2 separate regions of the Homo sapiens genome follow, and region 2 is linked to region 1. Evidence: fine-mapped expression QTL. Tissue or cell type: lung. Region 1 holds a variant in brackets; the other region holds the start of a gene. All regions are shown on one strand. Distances are from middle to middle.

What was found. PIP is the estimated chance that this variant, and not a neighbour inherited with it, causes the effect.
Region 2: it holds the start of FAM222A, and the variant in region 1 is fine-mapped to the expression of FAM222A in lung (TOPMed, PIP above 0.99).

Annotation. Positions count from the first base shown.
Region 1 is chr12:109,734,575-109,744,739 of GRCh38, reverse strand. It overlaps FAM222A (family with sequence similarity 222 member A), which reads right to left. Exons shown (of 3, transcript NM_032829.3): 2 at 512-639. The coding sequence starts at 593. It overlaps FAM222A-AS1 (FAM222A antisense RNA 1), which reads left to right. Exons shown (of 3, transcript NR_026662.2): 2 at 8,919-9,149; 3 at 10,147-10,165. Among named protein-coding and RNA genes, the nearest start is that of FAM222A, 26 kb to the right of the region's middle. RefSeq lists enhancers at 4,379-4,878, 4,879-5,380, 6,817-6,961, 7,465-7,964, a cis regulatory region at 6,882-6,895 and a silencer at 7,869-8,069. The variant C/T (reference allele first, on the strand shown) is at 4,284.
Region 2 is chr12:109,709,642-109,719,806 of GRCh38, reverse strand. FAM222A (family with sequence similarity 222 member A) reads right to left here and starts at 5,982. Exons shown (of 3, transcript NM_032829.3): 1 at 4,910-5,982. RefSeq lists silencers at 5,842-5,891, 5,922-6,251 and an enhancer at 6,957-7,520.

The DNA.
Region 1 (10,165 bases):
AAATCAGAGCGTTTCAGATCCTGGTCCTAGATAGTGAGAACAGACCCCTGGTCACCAGGTCTAGGTCCCAGTGAAAAAGCAAGGCCAGAGAGGGAAGGAAACACCCAAGACCACACAGCTCATGGGCCTCAAGCGGGGACCCCATTCTGTCTATTTTTTGCTTCCACGTCATCCTACTTTAATGGTGGTAAGGGAGACACACATGGCTAGATAATGGTGGTGAAGTTGCAGAGGCGGGGTTGGGGCATGGCGATGGTGGTGGTCAGAAGAGGCTGCTGGGAAGGAGGTCAAGCCAGAGTTGAGAGTCTTGCTCCACAGGAGCTGGCCAAAGGAGTGGGTGTCATTTTGGGGATGGAGACCAGGAAGGCAGCACAGCCGGGGCCAAGGCCTGGGGGCCTAAGAGAGCATAGAGACTTTCCGACAGGGCCATGGTAGGTGGACATCCTGGGGGGTGAATGGCGTTCTCTGCCCACGACCTGCCCTGCAAAGGCTGGGGAGGCGTCCTACTCACACTTGCGCAGCTCCAGGCTCTTGCTCGGGCAGGCCAGGTGTTGGCCCGGGGCGTTCTGGGTCCTCTGCAGACAGGCCAGCATGGCTGAGCTGGGGGTCCCCAGTGGGGTGCGCTCTGCGACTGGGTCCCTGCAGGAGGAAGATGGGGTGCTCTGTCACTTGGGGGCTGCTCCGTGTTCGCCTCCCACCATTCCCCCCGGGAGTCTCCCTGCAACCCCGAAGAACATCAGAGACTCTCAAAGCAGACACCCATTTCCCTTATTCGACCAATGAGGGGACCAAGGCCTGAGGCATCAAGAGGCCCATCTGTGGCCTCATGGGAAGGGACAGAATCCAGGGCTCTTGAGTGGGGGCTGGACTGATGGATCACACATGCCCCGGCCCTGCTCGGCATCTGGGTCATCTGCTCTGGGGCCTGCCCTGATGCCCCCAACTGGGTGAGATCCTCACTCCCTCCGTGCCCCGCAGCAGGCTGTGCTTCCGGCCGGTGGTGGCCCCCTGTAAGCAAGTCAGCCTGAAGACCCCACTTGGTCATCTTGGGCATCTACACAGAGGGGTGCTCGGGAAATGCCAGTGGGTACATGGGTGTCCCAGGTTACTGAAGTACTGGTCTGTCTCCCGCCCAGGGCATCCTCATAGCCCCCCTGGAGGGGAGATGTCAGGATGGCTTTCCTGAGAGAACAAGGGGCTCTTGAACCTTGATCCATGCTGCACCCTGAGCCCAGCCCCAATGGGCCATCAAGGCTGCCCTGACCCGAGATCCCTGTCGCTGCCTGAGCTCCTTACCCTGAATGGGAAGGGCAGAGATCTGTGCCCCGCAGGGCAGCAGCTCAGATGTGGCTGCACACAGGCCCGTGTGGTACCTTCCCCAACGGCCAGAGCCTGACATTCACACAGACACTTGCCTTCAGCTTCCCCAAACCCACTCTCCTGCAGAGAACGTTTCAGGAGGCCCAGGCACATTCCTGAGAGCCCAAAGCCCCTGACTGGCAGGGTCAGAGTGGGCCTGCCTGTGAGGCCCCAATGGGAGGGTGGCGGTGGGAGCTTACCTAGAGGTCCCTTCCTCCCTTCTTGCTAAGGAGAAGGCAGGTCTCAGGGTGAGCTCAACCCCGGACACCCCTGATGTCCATCTTCCCGGGCACCCTGTCCCCACCACTTCCTGACCTCCCACAGTCCTGAGCAGCCAAGCTGGATCACCTCAATCTTCATGTTGGTTTTAAAAAAGAAGAAGAAAGCAGAGGGGGTGTTGAAGGGGAAGAAAGGGAAGTTATTTAATACTAAACAGGTGTCTGGAGTCCTAAATTCTGCCGCTTTCTTCTAATAATGAAGTATTCATGAGGAAAAGCCTTTTTTCACTACTTTCTTAAGATACTAATTTCACAACAAGCTCCTTGTTACGGCGCAATTATTCCAATCTTGTATTTCCCGGAGACGGTTGCAGCCTCCCGTCTGTCCTGGCCTCTCGGTAAATGAAAGACAATCGCGTAACCACCTTTCATTATGCCCTATTTTACTTTCAGCAAAGGTACCCTGAAAGAAATGATTTCCTCTGAAAGGGACTTTTATTCAGTTTCAAAACCAATTTTCTCCTATTACTGTCTCAAGAAAAAAAAAAAAAGAGCGAGAGAGAGAGAGAGTGGAGGATGGAGGGGAGGGGAGGTGATTCTCACCGCCCCCTCCCCAATCGCCAGCCTTAACACAGAGACGCAATAAAAGCTGCAGTATCCACTTCCCGGCTTTGATTTCTGGTAATTTTAAAATAGGCCATTACAATCAGGCAGAAATTATACAGTTTAAAAAGGGAATGAAGTGGGGCTTATTGCAGGGATGAAAGTCCTTGACTGCAGGAAGGCAGTGCTGCTCCTCTCCTCGGGGACTTGGAATGTGAGCAGGTGGCGGGAGCAGGCCTGACTCGGGCCTGCCATCACCACAGCCTTGGACACCAGCCCTGGAGGACACGCCGTGCATGTGCACAGGGAGGGCTGGGTGTGCACACACACCCTGGTACACACTCACCTATGTACATATGTGTTTGCTGCATGGCATGTTCCTCTGCACTTACAGGCACCCTCTTACGCACAGTCGGATGGTCTATGGAGACTCACAATCATGTGCAATCTGGAAGGTAAGAGGCCTGTGGCAACCTCCCTCACCCTGCCCCAGCCTCTTTCTGTGGCCCCTGCTCCAGGGCAGAGTCCATCTCTAGCCGCTCTGACATAGGGGTTGGGGGAAAGGAGGGAGATCCGGAGAAAGCCAGTCCAAGACCTCTCCCTCCACAAATGGGAAACCCAAGCCACAGGGAGCAGTGGCCTGCCAGGCAGGGAGTGGCTGGGTGCACTTACCCCCTCACCACTGAGCTTGGCTGCACCCAGGCCAGTAAGGAGGGAGGTCAGAGGCTGGTGCCCTGTGGAAACCTGGGCTGGAAGGCTGGAACCTCCTTGCCTCCCAGCACACCCTGTGTGACCCCGGCTGGGTTAATGACCCTCTCTGGCCTGTAACAGTGGCTCCATGATCCCTGTGGGTACCTCCAGGTCACTTTCTTCCAGAGTCCTGGCCATGCCCGGCCCTATCTCCAGCCTTTTACTGGGGTCCAGAAGTCCAGCCCTTCTCTAGGTGCCCTAATGTCCCTTGGGCCATACATCCCACATGCTTTGCAGTTGAAAAAGGGTGGGCTGGGGGCTGCAATTGTTGGGGAAGGGGCAGGTCGCCTATTCTGGAGCCTCCTGGGACCCCATCAGCTCCCTTCCCAGCAGGGCTCTAGTTGTCAGCGTGCTCTTATGGTGGATGCCAGGCAGTTCTGGGAGCTGGGAGGGGTTTTCAGGGTGTGATGGTGTCCAAGTGTAGGCCTCAGCTTTGGCTCAGCTTTGCCAGGGCAGCTGCCTACATCCTCCCATTCCTTGCTTCTGGAGGGCTACAGGCAGCCTGAGAGATGCTCTTCACTTAAAGAGGAGGGACTTTTTTCTCTCTGCAACCCCAGTTCTCCCAACTCACTGCCCATTCTCCCAGGAACCCTGTGTCCTGCCACTGGGGGCACATGGCAGGGTGGTGGGGTGTCCTAGGAGGGAAGTGGGGAGGGGACCACCACCTCCAACTCCTGCATCATCCCCATCATCTGCAACCAAGACGGTCAAATCCCCCTCCTTGGCCTTAAAACCTCTCTGGCCCCGGCGTGGAGCCCAGCCCTCTTTGCCCACCACACCTCATCTCCCTCTTGGCTCCCCCTGGCCCTCCTTCCAGCCAGGCTGCCTCACACCTCCAGACCTCTGCCCCTGCTGGTTCTCCTGCCTACGGCACCGTGACCCTGATCCGTTCGAACTCAGATCTGTCTTCAGACCCTGGCTCACCCTTCCCTTCCTCTAGATATCCACCATCTCTGCTCTAATCACACCAAGGTGTAATTGCCAATTTTCACATCTCTCTCCCTCCGCTGGACTGTGTTTCTTAGGGGTAGGGACCGTGTCTTATTTGTCTGTCTCTCCCCAGTGCCTGGCAAGAGTAATCATTTACTAGATAGGTGTTGAATGAATGGCCGAATCAATGAATTGGTTATTGTCAGATAAAGTGATCTAGGCCCAGAGAAGCCAAGCGTCCCAAACAAGGTCACACAGCAAGGCAGGGACAGGACTGGGGCATGTGCCTAAAACACTCATGTTCTTTCTGTGACCCCATCTTGCCCCCTCCCTGCCTGGCATCATCCCATCTGCAGGAGGCCAGCCTCTCAGAGTCCCCGCCTGGACTCATTACCCCCCTGGCCAAGCACCATCCAGGGAGCA[C/T]TGTTCATTTTGAAACCCTATCTGCAAATCAGACTGTTTATAAGCTCAAGGTCTTTTGTGACTTTAATAAAAAAAGGGGGGGCAGGGAGGGGAAAAACGTCGCATGCCTCAATGATTAGAATGCTTGGCACCTTCCCTGACATGGGGGCTGATAAGACGCCTTATCTCGGAGACACCCGAGGAAAAGGTCCCCTCCACCAGATAACGCCCCCAGCTGTCGATGTGTCCTTTCATAGCTGAGGATTTAGATAAAGGAAATGTGACAGGGGAGGGGAAAGGAAGGAAGGAACTTTTCAGGTCCGAGGAGGAATTGAGTCTGTGATGCTCGCCTTAGCAGAACAATGAATGGGAGGAGGCTGTCTCTGTTTTTATGAAAAGAACAGGGATTTGGGGGCTTGGGCCCTGCTTGCCTTTTGTCATCTCGCCCTCGCCTGTCTGGCTGCAGGGGGCGTCAGGGAGCCCACGGGCCAGTGGGAGGGGAAGCTCTGAAAGAGCAACATGCAATTTGGGCTCTTAACGGTGGTGAGCATGTATTGACTGCCCTCTGTACCAAGCCCATGCGCCTCCTCCTCGTGGCCTCTGTGGCTCCATTTCACAGCTTAGGAAATGGCCACAAAGAGGGAAGGCCATCTGTGCAAGGTCACATAGCTTTTAGATAGCAGAGCCCAAGGATGCCAATGCCAGTCAGTCCCTCAGCCCCACACTGTACAGCAGCTCCATCGTGGTTGGGGGCCCGTCAGCCCTCAGCTCCCAGTCAACTGGGCAGGGAGGGATGGAAGCAAGGGTCTGCTTCTCCCCAGGGCCCAAATCCATTTTGATTCTACTGTGGGAGGGGCTGGGATCACAGAAGGAAGGGGTGAGAGGAGGGGAAGGGCTCCCAGAGGCCACTTATTCATCCCATAAACATTCAAGGAGCGCAAATCAGGAGGCCAGCATTGGGCAGAACAACACTGAGATGAGTAAAGCCCAGGCCTTGCTTCTTACCCACCCATTCATTCATTTAGGCAGCAAACACTTCCCAAGCATCTTTTGAGGGCCAGCCCTGTGCCATGTACTGGGAGGACGGAAATGACTCAAAGTGTCCTGCCAGAAAGGAACATCTAGCCAGAACTGACCTCCCAATAAAAATGAATGTTCCTGACCTCTCTCTGCCTCCAGCATTTTCCTGATGTGGCAGGCATCTGGAACTTTCCCTCGTGTCCACAGGTCAGCAGTCTGCCCCTTGCCAGGCTGGGTTGACCCCAAGGCAGAATAGGAGGAGGACACACCTGGCTTCACGGCAGGGCCCTGAGATTGTGACCCCGGGAAAGCCATGGGCTGCGCCTCTGAGCCCCCATCTCCTCCTCTACCTCCAATCCCTAGAGCTACCCACCTGGCTTCTGTGGCTCCATTCAAGGCCAAAGCCTAGCTGTGACCTGGAGGGGAAGGTCATGCCAGGCCCTTCCTGGTGTCCAACAGGACTAGTTCAGAGAAGAGAGCTGGCCCCAGAGGCCTCTGGGTTGTACCTGCCAGGCAGGGGCCAGGCACTGGGGTTCTCACTGGCTGGGTGACCTGGAGGAAGTCACAGCACCTCTCTGAGTCTGTTTCCCAAATGAACCTTTATGGGGAGTGGACCAGCTGATAGTATGAGGGCCATCTAACTTGGACATAAGAGGATGTGATCATTTGGTTTCCAAACTTAATCCAGCTGTGTACAAGGTGTGGGGCAGTCCCTGAACTGTGGGCACACAAAGGGGCTCTAGACGTAGCCATTGTCTTTGAGGGACTTAGAATCTCGAGCAGGGACAAGATAGGAAGCTGGCAAAACCCAGCAGTTCATCATGCAAGGAGTAGAGTAGATGGTTCAGACTCTGAATTCCCTTTCAGGAAGTGAATGAGATGCTGGCCACTCCTCAGGGCCTCGCAGCCTTCCTGGGGGTGGTGGCAGGATAGGTGGGTGGTGAGGGAGCCCTCCCACAGTTCTCACCTCCATCCCTCTGGCTGTAATTCAAGTCTCTTCACGCTGCCTGGCCACACAGCCTGCTCCAAAGGCAGATAGGAGCCTGAAATGGTGGTGAGAGGCCCAGGGCCCGGGGAAGAGAATGAATGCTGGATTGGGAATACTAGGGTCAGACCCTGGTGGTGTGGCCCTAAATGGGTCACTTCTCTGTGTTGGTCCCCAGCACCACGAGCTGAGCAAGTAGAAAGCCTCAGAAAGTCCAGACCTCTCTAAATAATGAGGGGCAGCAAACCTGCTTCTGGCCAGGAAGAGTGGAGGGACCCTTGCCCAGCCCAGGAATGTCCTCAGGAATCTAGGTGCAAGCTTCCCCCAACCCCCTTAGGGGCTCCCACGACAGGAAGATCCACTGTCTGTCTCTTTCCTCTCCTCTGTCTACATCCCTGTCCTTAGCTCCACCTGCCTCCTGTCCTGATGCCTCCCTTCTCCTTCCTGCTGTCTCTCTCTCTTTCTCCCTTCCTGACCCCTCTTCCCTTGCTCCTTCCTCTCTCTCCCACCCCGCTTGTCTCAGCAAGGCAGCCAGAGTAGAAGCCCATCCCCACCTCCCTCCTGCCGCTCCCTCCCCCATCTCTGTTCTGAGCCGGAGGCCTTCCAAGGGACCCTGTTAATAATTAAATGTTAATCTAAAAAGCAATTTGAGCTGCGGCTAGGCAGATCTGGTTAGAGATTACATTAGCATGGAGGAGGCGAGGGTAATTTTCTTTAACCCCTCTCCTGATCTCTCAAGCCGGGGATTCTTCAAGTCACACCGGCACTGCTGATTAAACTGGCACAGGGCTTGGCTGTGGATAAGGGGCCTGTGAAAAGTGATTATTTCCCACTGCCATTTGGGCCTCAGCACCAGAAGGGGATTTTTACCTTTTTTTTTTTTTTTTAAGGTTGGGGGCTGGGGAGGTACTGTCCCCTTGAATAGGAGGCCTCATCTTCTGCCAGAATTACCACTGTATCTGTCCCCACCCCAGCAGGCCAGGGGCTCTCTAAAATGCTGCAAATCTTGTCACAGAGCATACCTGGCTCTTTGGTTTCTAGGACAAAGATGCCAGTCCCCTGCCTGGCTCCAACACCCCTCCATTGTGCCTGGTTCTGGGCTGGGCACTAGAGCCAGAGATGCTGGCAGTTCTGAGCCAAAGGGGAGACCAAAAAGTAAAGTGACAATCACCAATTCTGGCTGGCAGCCAGAGTCCTGAGGTGGGCTTCCCTCTGCACAAGACTCTCACCTGCACACTTGCAGGCTTTGGCCCATGCAATCCCAAGAGCCAGGAAGGACTTTTGAGCAGAAGGACTGCTCAAAAGCCCTTTCTGGCTCTCTACCCCTTAAAACTCAACTCGACCTTCAATTGGAGTCCGGGTTCCTGAGGGCTTCTCCAAGACATACAAGGTACATAATAAATGTTTGATGAATCGTCAAATGACTGGAGTCCCATGTGGCTCTCCTTGATCCTTCCTCTATGGGTTCACGGTGCTACAGCAGTGCCTGAGCACAGGGCCCTCAGGAAAACGTCTCCTGAACAAAGGATGGGCAAGAGGCTGTCCTAGGGAGTTGGGGCAGGGTGGGCCTCAGGAAGTGTCCTACTGGGACACACAGCTGGGGTCTGGGGGTAGGTGGCCATTCCTGGGCCTGTCAGCACCACGGCCAGCTCCCGGCGCAAGAGCCCTGGAGAAAGGGGCGGGGTACAGCCTGAGAGCATAGTGATGTCAGTCGCCATGGGAACTGACAACTGCGATGTGCCTCCGTCAGCACTCCAACCACTGGGGACGGCATGACAGATTAAACACCAACTATGTGCCAGGCCAGGCCCTGTGCTAGATGCTGGGGCAGTGACAGACCCTGAGTGGATGGGAGGCATCAGAGGGGTAATTACAAGGCAGGGAGACAAGCGGTGGCCATGTTGGGGTCACCCTACCTGGCCTGGGGGGGTCATGATGTAAGGACACACCAGCTGCCTCATTAGCAGAGCGACAGTGTCTGTCCCCGACTTCACATCCGGATGTCTGAGCTTTACACCCTAACTCTGTGAGCTTAGGCAAATCCCTCCCTCCTCTCTGAGCCTTAGTTTCTGCGTCTGCAAAAGGGGTTAATTCCTTACAACAAAGTGCCAGGGTCCTTGTGGTAGCTGCCTAAGTGGTACCCGTTGTTAGCATTGTTTATGGTCGCTATCAACAGGTAAGTAGGAAAAAGCTAGGGGAAGGGAAGGATCCCACAGAAGGGACTGCACAGGCCACCACATGGAGACTTGAGAGAGAGGAGCAAACAGAGAACATGAAGGAGCTCCAGGCTGCTGGAGAGCAAACCCTCCTGGTGAGTCACTGAGAGCACCTCACCTATGCAGGGCCAGGCAGGGACCCCCCCAACCTCAGAGCGGGGAGATCTGTTTCCTCTGCACTAGTGCTAGTTCAGGACAGGGACTCAGAGAAGGTGCCAGAAGGAGGGGCAGTCACTGCCACTGGCAACAGGCCTGGCTGGCCCTCTCCCAGAGCCATGGACCTCTGAAGGGCAGTTTCACTCTTCCCAGAGAGCCAGGGATCCCAAGGTGCAAAGTTTGGAGCCAGGGGCAGGCTGAGCCTCTGTTCTCCTAGTTCCAGCCTCGGCTCTTTAATGAAAATTGTCAGTCAAGTAAGACTCCGTCATCACCTTCCAGCAAAGAATGAGTGGGGAGATCTGAGAATCGATACTGAACAGCTTCAGTACTACGATGTCATAATGGGGCTGTGAGCTCAGCCGAAAGCCCCCCGCCCAGTTTTTTTTGGAAGTGGTCATAGAATCTCTCTGGAGAAACAACATGGAAATGGAGACCAAAAGAGGGAAGGAGGGATGCCACCAGATGACACTGGGATCCCGGAAGACGGAACACTGTGTGCAACGGGCAAAGGTAAGACCCACAGTGGAGATGGGAGGGGCCCGGTATCTCTAGCCTTCCTCCCACCTATTCCCCCAGTCCCTGCACCCACAGTTCAGGGTTAAAGCAGGCAACGGGGAAGGAGAAAAATCTAATAGTAAGAGCAATAAGAGCTAGCTTTTATTTTTAGTGTTCTCCACAGGCTCAGTACTTTACAGACGTCACCTCACGTAACCCACGCCACAACCGGGAGAAAGACATGATTGGCGTTGTACCCACGAGGAAACAGAGAGGGAAGGGAGCTGTCCAGGACCACGGGGTTGGTTGGTGGAGCAGGCAGGAAAGCCCCACGGAAGAGGTTGGCCTGGGCCAGACAGGGTTTGAGGATTCAGGCCCCAAGGGACGGGGAGGAAGAAGACTGGGTCCTTGTGCAAGAATGACCCAAGAGTGTTTAGAAGACGCAGTGGCCCAGGTCGGGGGAGGAGAGTGGACAAAAGTGGCTGGCAAGGGCTGGCCTTAGCTTTTAGCCCAATGCTAAGATCAGTAGATGCTTCTGGGGGTCAGGCTGGGGCAGAAATGAATGGAGCCTTCGAGGCAGGGGTTAGGAAACAGGACAGGACACTCGGCCCAAATGACAGCGCCACCACTCCACATCCCAGAGTTCATAAGCTCTCTCAATGTTTGTTTTATTTAAATCTCCAAGAGTCAAACGCCACTCACCACCCATGTGTGGGTCAGTCTCCAGCTTTCCACCTCTGCTGTGAGTGAGGGTAGAGGGGCGTCGTGTCTCTAACCCCTCCTATGGTCAGGGAGCTCCCTCCATGTCATCCGGCCACAGGCACTGTGATTTAGAAAGTGCTGGAGCCAGACCACCTGGGTTCAACCCCCTCCCCCTGTCATAGCCTAGCGGCTGACGGTTAACTGGGGAATTTTCCTTTTCTTCTTTGTGCTTCTCTGTATTTCTAATTTTTCCACAATGAACATGCATGACTTCTGGTTTTTCTTTCTTTCTTTTTTTTTTTTTTTAAAGAACTTTTCAAAAGGGATTT
Region 2 (10,165 bases), 25 kb after region 1:
CACCCTTAGCTCAGCACCCGATGCCCCCTGCACACCCTCCTAATCTCCCTTTCACCTCCACCATCTTATAAGCTCCCCCTGCCCTTCCTGGTCATGCTCCCGGGTCTCCAAACTCCCTCTGCCAGAGACACCCCCATTTACTCCATGCTGGGGAGAGCCACTCAGTCCTCAGGGCACAGAGCACAGCCCGCTTTGTCAGGAAGCCCTCCAGGACCAGCTGCAGGTTTTCCCTCCTCCAGCCCTGCTCCAGCCCTGTCTAGAATTCCAGTTAACTGCAGACTCATCTTACTCCCTCTAGAGGCTGTGGGCCATCTGATTTCTTATCACTTGACCACTGGGACACGGGCGACAGGGTGTCCTTGCTCAGTCTTTACCTAAAGCCTGGTTTTACCGAATGGAACCACGAGTGGGTGGGAAGAGGAGTGGGAAGCTGGAACCCCGCCTCTGCCTTCCCATCTCTGGCTGCCAATGAACCTCATACTTCTGCCACTCCCTGGCTGTGTGACCTCGGGCAGCAAAGTATAATACCTTCTCTGGGCCCCTGCTTCTCAGCAAAATGGGGGTGGTACCAGCATGTGCATTTCTTAGGGTTATGACGTAAACTCTGGAAGGTACTAGTCTGGTGACCTGTATCCAGGCATGATTACATGATTCCTGACTGTGACCACTGGAGTGGTCAGGGCATGAATTTGGGGTCAGAGAGACCCAGATGGTGGCTGCACATTGGCTGTGTGGTCTGGGCAGGTCGCCCCTTCCCCAGGGTCTCCGTTTCCCCATCTCTGAAGTGGCACTAACTCTGCCCACAGGGATGCAAGCCCCCCATCACAGAGACCCCATCTTTTGTTTGATGCATGCAGTAGGTACTCAGATATTTCTCAACTAAGCAATCAGGGGTCCAGGTGGAAGGAATCCATCCCTCTTCCCAGCCTCCACCCTTTCCAGAATCTCCCTCCCTACACCCAGCCCGTGCAGACTAAAATAGTCATTAGGCAGATTTCAAAAGATGTCAGTAGCTTATAATTATAGTCGACATCCTTCTGAGATAAAAGTGATTACCTTGGATGCAAATCACTTAGCAACCAATCAGGGCGGCGGGCGGCGCCCGCGGAGGTGACCGGCCGGCACCGCAGCCCTCCTCCCGCGGCCCGCAACGCACAGGCAGAGAAAGCGCCCAATAGCTCTTGACACGCAAATGGGTTAACACAATAAAGCGGCTCCGGCCGCTGCTGGGAGAGAGCAGCAATTCCCGGCCCGCGGGAGGTAATAAAGCGGCCCTTTTGTGCGCGCCTCCTCGTTCTCACCCCCGCCCCGAGCCCAGAGGAATCGCCGCCTGATTGAATTACGGTTCATGAATATGAGCTGCTTCGCTGCCTTCCTCCGGTTTGTGAGGGATGGGAAGGCAGAGGGGGCTGGAGGGAGGTTGGGGAGGGACCCCCGGCCAAGTCCCAGCCCCCGCAGAAGCTCAGAAAAGAGCCACCGGTGCTCACCATGTGGGTGGGTGGGTGGGGGCCTCAGTGGACAGAGAAGCCCCTGGCAGAGATAGCTGGTAGAGTTCGGGCCTCTCCCTGCAAATGGGGTCTTCAACCTTTGGCTCCAAGGGACTGAGTCATTCAAGGCTCCGTTCTGAGGAGGAGGTAACAGTAGCCATGACAACATGCGTTTGAGTGCTTACTGTATACTGTGTGCTGTGCTAGGCCCTCCCTGAATCCTCACCAGACCCTGCACAGTGAGTGCTATGGTCCTTCTCACAGATGAGTAAACTGGGGCTCAGAGAGGCAAAGGTACTCACCCGAGGTCACACAGCCTGCAAGCGGCGGGCTGAGAGTACGATCCAGGCCCAACCCACGCCAGAGCCTGGCACCTAATCAGGAGCCACTGCCCATCACCAGGGCGCCTCAAGTTTCTCATCAAGGGGGTTCAGCAGTCCAGCCCAGTCCCAGTTTAGTCCAGAGCAGCCCTAAGGCTCAGAAGGGACAGGGGATGGACGAGCTTACAGGAATTAGATAAGTGAGAAGGATTAGTGGGGGTGGGGCCAACCTTAAGAGAGGAGACTGCCCCCAGAACCGAGGTGGCCACTTCCACGCTTACGGGAAGAGATGTCCAGGGTTACTGTCCTTGTCAAAGGAGATCAATGGATCCTCTGCCCTGCTTAAACCTTCCCTATCCACCTAAGGCTCCAGGACACAGCCACTCACGGCTGCCCCTTTCCCCATCAGGCACGAGGGCCCACACACATCACTGGCTGCTCCAGGGCCACTCCGGCCACCCAGAACAGTCTTCTCACTCCTGTCTGGCACATTCCTATTTGTCCTCTTCATGACTCATGTGCCACCTCTCCTCTAGGGCTTTTTGACCCTCAGGCTGGGTCAGGAACCTCATCTACTAGTTTGCCCTTGCTCCATCTACATCCCAAGAAGGTCCCTGGGGCGGCCAGGGGCAGCTTCACCGCCTCCCTCCAAGCAAGCCCAGAAGGGCAGGTGACAAGGAGCGAGTTTCAAGCTACACCTTCTTTCCCCTAGTGCTGGAGAAAGGAGTCCTGGGGGTGAGGGGACCAGACAGACCACAAGGCCGGGCGGAAGTTGTTAATCTACTCAACGCTGACCTGTAGGTCATAGGAAGAGAGGATTCAAATCTGCCTTTTGGTGTGGACAAAGCATCTTGGTGGGGCCAGACTCCCCCTCCATGGCTGATAGCCTCTGATGCCTGCAGGGACCCCTGTCCAATAAGTAGGAGTGTCCCCCAAACCCCATGGGAGGAGGTGGTAAGACACAAGGACTCTGGAGCCAGGAGGGCAATTCAGGACCGAACCTCTGCAGCTGCCTGGCTGATCACCTGTAGCCCATCACTTCCTCTGTTTAAGCCTCAGTTTCATTAGCTATAAAATGGGCCACAGCGTATGAGCCACTCCAAGGAGTAACTGAGATCATGTAAAACGCCTGGCATATAGGGAGATGCTGAGAAAGCTGGCACTCCCTCCTGCTCATCGTCTGGCACGCTGAGTGCCAAGCCCAGGGAGATGAGGGAAGGGAACAGAAGGAATTGCCCAATTCTGACAGCCTTTCCCTCTGCCTTGGCTGTGGAAGTGTAAATACTCGGCAGAGGGCCTCCAACTGCCTGTGTTTGTGAATCTCTGGCGCGCACTCCGAGTTTGTTTCTAAACTGGGAAGCTTCGAGAGGCAGCGCAAACAGCCCTTCTGCCCACCTCTCCCGGCTCTCCCCCAATCTGCTGTTGCTCCTCTGTCCTTGGAAGCTTGTGTGTTTAACGACACCATTTCAGCTGGAAATACCATCTCCCTGCCAAGCCCCCAAAAGCAGCTCCACCGATATTTATTGACCTGTTAATCTAGCTAGAGAGCTTGGTAGAAGAGCAGGGAAAATGCTCGCTGCATAGACTGGGGCCTGGCTTCTCCTAATGACCCGAACACACACTTTCTCTGCTCTTACCCCGCCCCACGCTGCTGAGGCAATGACAGTTTTCGAACCTTTTCCTAGAAATGTGATCACAGCAGTTTCACCAGCACCCGACACTGGCAATAATTGCTGGAAGGGACCTAGACGAATCCCAGAGCCAGCAGCAGGATGCTTGCTGGGGGTTCTCTGGGCCTTTGCAGGGAAGCGTGCCAGTACTGGGGTGTGTGTTGGTTGGGGGTGCCCTGACAGAGACACAGTTTATTCAGACCTTGGCACTGATGGGCCTCACTTGCCCGCCATTCACTTAAGCAGCCTCACAATATGCTCGTTGAAATCCTCTTAAACACCAGAAGGAGCAGGGGGCAATCAGGAGTTCCAGGTTGGCCAAGGCCCCTGACCTTGGGGTAGAACAGCATGGGGAGCCCCTGGACTAGGGGTGCAGCAGGCAGCAGCTCCTCTGCACCTTCCTTGGCTGGGGGAGGGGCACCCACATTTTCCCCAGCAGAAGTAGCCTATTGGAGGGCCGGAGGCCCACATCTCTCTGGGGACCCTGGGAACTTCAGCCTGCCAGCTGGGTACATGGTGGGGTTCAGGGAGGTCTCTTCTATAGCATCTCTTTTCAAAACAGAAAGTTGCTCTGTCTGGGAGGCCTGAGCCCCGAGGCACAGGCCAGGCTACATGGGCAAAGCTCTGAACACCTGTCCTTGCGGGGAGGAGCATCAACAGGGACAGCTGGCACTGCCTCCCTCCCCCACCTTATGGGGCGCTAAGGATTTAGGTCAGAGGACTGCAATGGTAGGGGTGGGGGGAGTCCGCCTTCACCCCTCCACTACCCAAAGGCATCCAGCCCCGCCCCTTGTTACCACGACCCCGCCCCCTCCGGCCTTGGGTCAAGGCAAGTGGTGTTGCCACGGCAACCCCAGTGACATCAGAGGCTAAGGTTTGACGTCATGTCGTGCCCCCACTGGGGAACCTACCGTCCCTGCGAGTTATTTGTGGGAACGTGGTTTGAACGAGGGCTCTAAGGTCTAGCCCCATGGGGCACAATTCTCAAACGTGGCCACCTGCGTTTCTGGAACCCCAAATCCCCCTCTGAGGTGATTTCCCTTGAAGATCTCAGAGGCTGCTCGGGAGACCCTCAACGTTTTCCCATCCTGGGTGCCCCCCACCCCCCAGCCCTTCCAAGACACTGGAGTTCCCGGGGAATTTTCGGATGACACAGCCAATACCTTTGTTAGCTTTACGGGTGGGGTGACCTTTCCTCTCTGGCAACCAACCCGCCCAGGGTCCCGCGGAATCCGAATGGGCCCCCCAACCTCCACTCCCATCGGCTGGCCCATCTGAACAAGTTGTGTTTGGAGGGAGGAAAGGGGCGGACAAGGGTTATCTCTGCTTCAGGACCCCCAACAGCCTAGGACCCCTTCTGTCCAATCCTGGCTGCCCGGACGCCAGGGGGTGCCCCCAGCTCCAGCGCAGAACCCCGCCCCGCACAACTCACCGGATCAGCCAGGCCGTCGAAGGGCACCAGGTCTCAGCTACCACGACGCTCCGCTCGACGGGTCGCAGCCATGCAGGAGTGGCAGAGGCTGCCTGACGAAGCCCTCCTTGGGGGTCGATGCCTCTCTCCGGGTGGGAAGGGGCGCTGTCGGTGAGGGCTATCCTGGCGCCGGCCTGCGCCGTCCGAAGTCGGGGGGGAGGGGAGGTCTCCGTTCAGCAGGGGTCACGCCCGCCCCGGACGGGGGCCGCGCGGGCGCTCAGGCGACGCATCTTCGCCGGGGCCCGTGATCGCCACGTCCGGCGGGCGGCGCTGCGCCTCCCCTCGGGGCCCCGCTCAAGGCTGCAGCTCGGCCCGCGCCGCTCCCAGGGCGCCCTCTCCGCCCGCGCTGGGAGCCCGGCGGCCGCGGCCCCTTTCGCCAGCCCCAGCTGCAGCCTGTCTTTGTTGCTTCCTCTCGCTCGCCCGCCCGCCCGCGGCTTGCAGCCCCCGGGTTCGCCCCGAGGTGGAGGGATTGTCTCCTTCGGGGGTTGCACGCACCCGCAGCGGCCCCGGCTCCTCGCCGGACATACACCGGCCCCTGCAGGTTGCAAAGAACAGCGGCGAGAATGCACCGGCCCCTCCTCCTCCTGCTCTGAGCCCCGGGTGTGGGGGGAGGGGAAGCCGGCGAACAGCGGCGGCGGCAGCGGCGGCGGCGGCGGCAGCGGGCGACGCAAGCTCGGATGCAGCCTCGGGGGCCTCGGCGCTGAGAAACAGCCGATCCCAGTGGCGCAGGACGGACACGAGGACGGCCCGGGGGACTGTGCACCGGGTGTGCGAGCTCGCAAGCCGCAGCAGGGGCCGCGCGCGCTGGGCTCTCACGCGCCCATGGCCCCGGGCGGCGCGCGGGGGCTCCCGGGGCCGCAGCCTCGCGCCGTCTGGCGCGCGCCGGCGCCTCGCCTGGTCTCAGGCCCGGGTGCCGCGCGCCGCGCCCCACAGGCGCCGGGCCCGGCTGTCCGCCTCCCCCGGCCGGCGCGCGCAGCCTCTCCGCGGAGCAGCCGGCCAGGCAGTCCTGCCCGCTGCTCCGCTCTGGCCCGACTGACAGGCGCGAGCGCCGGCAGCAGCCCCCGCGTCTCGTCCCCCGCCCGCCCCCCGCGGCCCAGCCCAATCAGCGGCGGCTGAGAGGCGGTTACCAGGGTGACGCGGCACCGCGTCCTGCGAGGGGCGGAGCCGGGGGCCGCCACGCGCGCTTTTCGCGGCAAAATTCAAAGGCCGGCAGGGCGGCTCTCCAACCTCCTCCCCCAAGCAGGGACGAGGCGGAACTTGCCTCGCGAGGACTGCAACTCCCGGCATGCTGCGCGCCGGCGCCGGGTGGAGGGGCCCCGACTGGGGGCGCAGGGCGTGCTGGTTTTTGTAGTCCCACTAGGGGTGGCAAAACCAGTGTCATTTACTGATCACATATTTGGGACAAGGCACTGTATAAGTGCATTATCGGCATTATTTCATTTAATCTTGGCAAAAACCAACCTCATGAGGAATTTGTTAAAAATAACAACTATAGCTAACACTTATGTAGCAAAGTATTTTATCTAATCCTCACAACACCGTGTGAGTGGGTATTACTATCACCCCCATTTTACAGATGAGAAAACTGATACGGTAGGTACTATTATTATACTTCCAACTTACAGAGGAAACTGAGGTAAGGAGATGTGAAGTGACATGGTCCTGGATGTTTTTGTCCTAAGGCTTATTTTTGGCAGCGATGTGTTTTTGGCATCACAGTTGTGATCTGTGGAGCGCTAACTATATAACCCAGCACAGCGCTGAGCAATTTGCAAGCTACACCTTCTAGACGTACCCCACGCCCACAGGAGACAGGCACTAGCCTACTCCCCCACTTAATAGATAGGGAAACTGAGGCATAGTTTCACATCAACCTGGGGTTCAAATATGAATCTATCAAACTATACTGTGCTTTCCCTTTTACTTTTAAAGAAGCTTCCTGGGTTCTCACAGCCCATGGGCGGCCCGTCTAGCAGTCTCATTTACAGATGGGGAAATTGAGTCCTGGGTGGGGCAGTTCCCTCAGTTGCTGTGTGTCCATCACACAGCACTGTAGGAAGCCAGCTTTCCGGGATAATAACAAAGATCCCCACAGAAATGCAGAGCAGCAGTCAGACCCCCCACCCCTCAGGCTATGCCCGTGTGATACCTGGAGTCCCACCGAAACTGGGTGGGATTGCAGCCCTGCCCTTGCTGGTTGTTGGTCTTGGCCATTTACCTTCACGGGTCTGCGCCTCAGTTTCTTGTCTGTGAAATGGGGGGCATCATAATTCCTACCTTACAGCGTAGATTTGAGGGCAAAATGAATTCTTGCATGTAAAGGACTCAAAACACACATTAAGTGCTCAATAAATGCCCTCTGTACTCACCCGGGCTGGAGGGCTTTGGAGACCCTGGGGAGCGTATCCAGCGGACGGGCTGATTATAGACGGGCCCTAGCCTACTTCCAGGAGCCAACCCACCCCGCCGGGAGAGGCGCCCGCGGCGGACCTCCAGGGCCGGCCCAAGTGGGTCACCCGCCGCCTTATCTAGGACAGGAGCTGGCCCTGTTTCAGGCCTCTAAGCGGCTGCTCGGCGCGCTGTTCCCAGCAGCTCCGCTCTATTTCTCCGCGGCCGCCCCCATCTCCTCCCCTTCCCTCCCCAGGCTGAAGGTGGGGGTGGGGATTTACCTGGAAATGTGTTATGCCTCCAGCTGCTTCCCGCTCGGGCCAGCAGCCAGGGCTGCGGGGACGTCAGGGAGGGCGGCCGGGGCGACTGGATGGGTGGACCCAGCGTGTGGACAGGTGGGGAGACCAGACTTCAGCTGAGGACAGGGCGAGGGACAGTAACAAGCAAACCCTGGGAAATGAGAGAGATCGCGAAGAGGAGAAGAAGGCAGCAGTTCGCACCACAGCCTGTCAAAAGTTTGGGATTTTTTTCATTGTAGGTCACCATGACTTCACACCTACTGTGTGTCAGGCATGGGCTCACTGCTATTTATCTCACATAACTCCTTTTACCCTCGCAGAAACCCTATAAGGTATATACGATCACTATGCACATCCTACAGCAGAGGAAGGCCACATGACTTACCCAAGGTCACACAAATGACAGAACCAAAGTCCAGAGCCCTGACGTTGATTTATTGCACCTTGTGGCAGCCACTGTCTGACCGTGTGCAACCTTGAGGGGAGTTTCTTCTCTTCTCTGGACCTCAGTTTCCCCTGCCATGAAATGGAGGGTAGGACCCAAACCCCAGCCCTACCAATCAGACTCTCCTTGGTGGGACAGCAGTTTCCAAAGCTCCTATGTGGTTCCTGATACAGCCAGGGCTGACAACCCCAGGTCGAGAAGATCTCAAAAGACCCCTCCATCTCTGAAGTTCTATGAGTCCACGATGTGCTCATGGTGGAATTTCCGACAGCAGCAGGCTCCAAGGCAGCTGTCCAGCAGGAGAGGTCAGAGCCTTCCAGATGCCTGTCGCTCCCCTCCAGGCAGGTGAATGCCCCGTAAGATGCTCTGCCCCACTCCCCACACTCCCAGTGCCCCCCTACCCCATATGCCCATCTCCCTGAGATCAGACCCTCGTGCCTTTGCTCTTGGTCGACTCCAATAACTGCATTATGTGATTGGAGACAGTGTCAAGATGGATTTGCCACGGTCCATAAAACCACCAGGCAGGCCAGCCCCGGAACACTGGCTCTGGCCAGGGGTCCGACAGGCCCTGAGGGGGCAGGGGGCAGAGGGCATCTCATCTCTCACTGTTCTTGTTTGCCTCCCACACACCAACCTTGCTGAAATACCTACAAATCCTTGCACGTGCCTCTCTCACCTCCAGGTCATTGCTTATGCTGTTCCTTCTACCTAGAATGCCCTCCCTCCAGGTAGCTAACTCTTGCTCCTCCTTCAGAGTTCAGCCAAAGTGCTGCCTCCTCCAGGAAGCCTTCCCTGACTACCCTGCTCCAGGCTGGAGCACTTCCCCCTTCACAGATGTGTCCAGTGTGTGTTATAATGGCCCACTTCTTTGTCAGGCTTCCCACTGGCCTGAGGGCTTTTCCAGGGCAAAGGCTGCATTCAGTTCATTTTATTCCCTAGCACAGGCCTGACATAGAGTCAGCACTCAATGAAGGTCTGTTGACTTAATCTCTGAATCACTGAATGAATGTGGCCCAAGTTTTTGTTTTGTTTTGTTTTCACGTAGAGGAGGAGAATTAAGAGAAGGGAGTAGAGTCAGGCTGACTGGGCTACTAGCCATATGACTCAGCCGCTCTGTGCCTCAGTTTCCCCCATCTTTGAAATGGGATTAATTGCCATTTCAATTAATCAAGGCATCACTCAAGGGGCCTGGAGGCTGGAACTTTTGTTCCCACCCTCCCACGTATGTAAGGCTAGTCTTGCTCTTCTCTGTTTTTTTGTTTTTTTGTTTTTTAGAGACAAAGTCTCACTCTGTCACCAGGCTGGAGTGCAGTGGCACCATCATAGTTCACTGCAACCTTGAACTCCTGGGCTCAAGTGATCCTCCCACTTTAGCTTCCTGAGTAGCTAGGACTACAAGGTGCATGCCCCCATGCCCAACTAATTTTTAAATTTGTTGAAGAGACGGGCTTTTGCTATTTTGCCCAGGATGGTCTCAAACTCCTGGGCTCAAGTGATCCTCCCACCTCGGCCTCCAAAAGTACTCGGATTACAGACGTGAGCCACCTGGTCCATCTTTGCCTTGCCCTTCTCTGGTCTCACGCACTGAAGCCTGAGCATTCCCCCTTTAAGTCTGCTAATTCCCTCATTCATTCAACATTTTCTAAGTACCTGCCCTGTGCTTGACACTGGGAATTCAGCAGTGACTCAGACCAAGACATAGGCCTCTTGGAACTCAGGTTTCATGGGGCACAGAGAAGGCAACTAACAGGTGTCATCCAGGGTACCAGTAGAGGGGACAGTCCGAAGCAGGCACCTGACTCAGCGGAGGGCCAGTGATGGTAAAAAGGCAAGTCAGCTACCCTGGGAAAAATGGGTAGGAGGTAGCCAAGGGCAGAGGTGAGGGAAGAGCGCCCCCGGAAGAGGGAACAACCAATGCAAAGGCCTAGTGTTCCAAGTGAGGGAGATGTGAACGCCCCAAAAGCAGAGGTGGGTGAGAGGCTGAGCTGGGGCTGGGGAGAGGGGAGCAGGCAGAGACGGGGCATTTATGCAGGCAGAGGGGGCAGGCCTGCTCCAGCCTCCCACCCCACCCCCAGTTGCCTC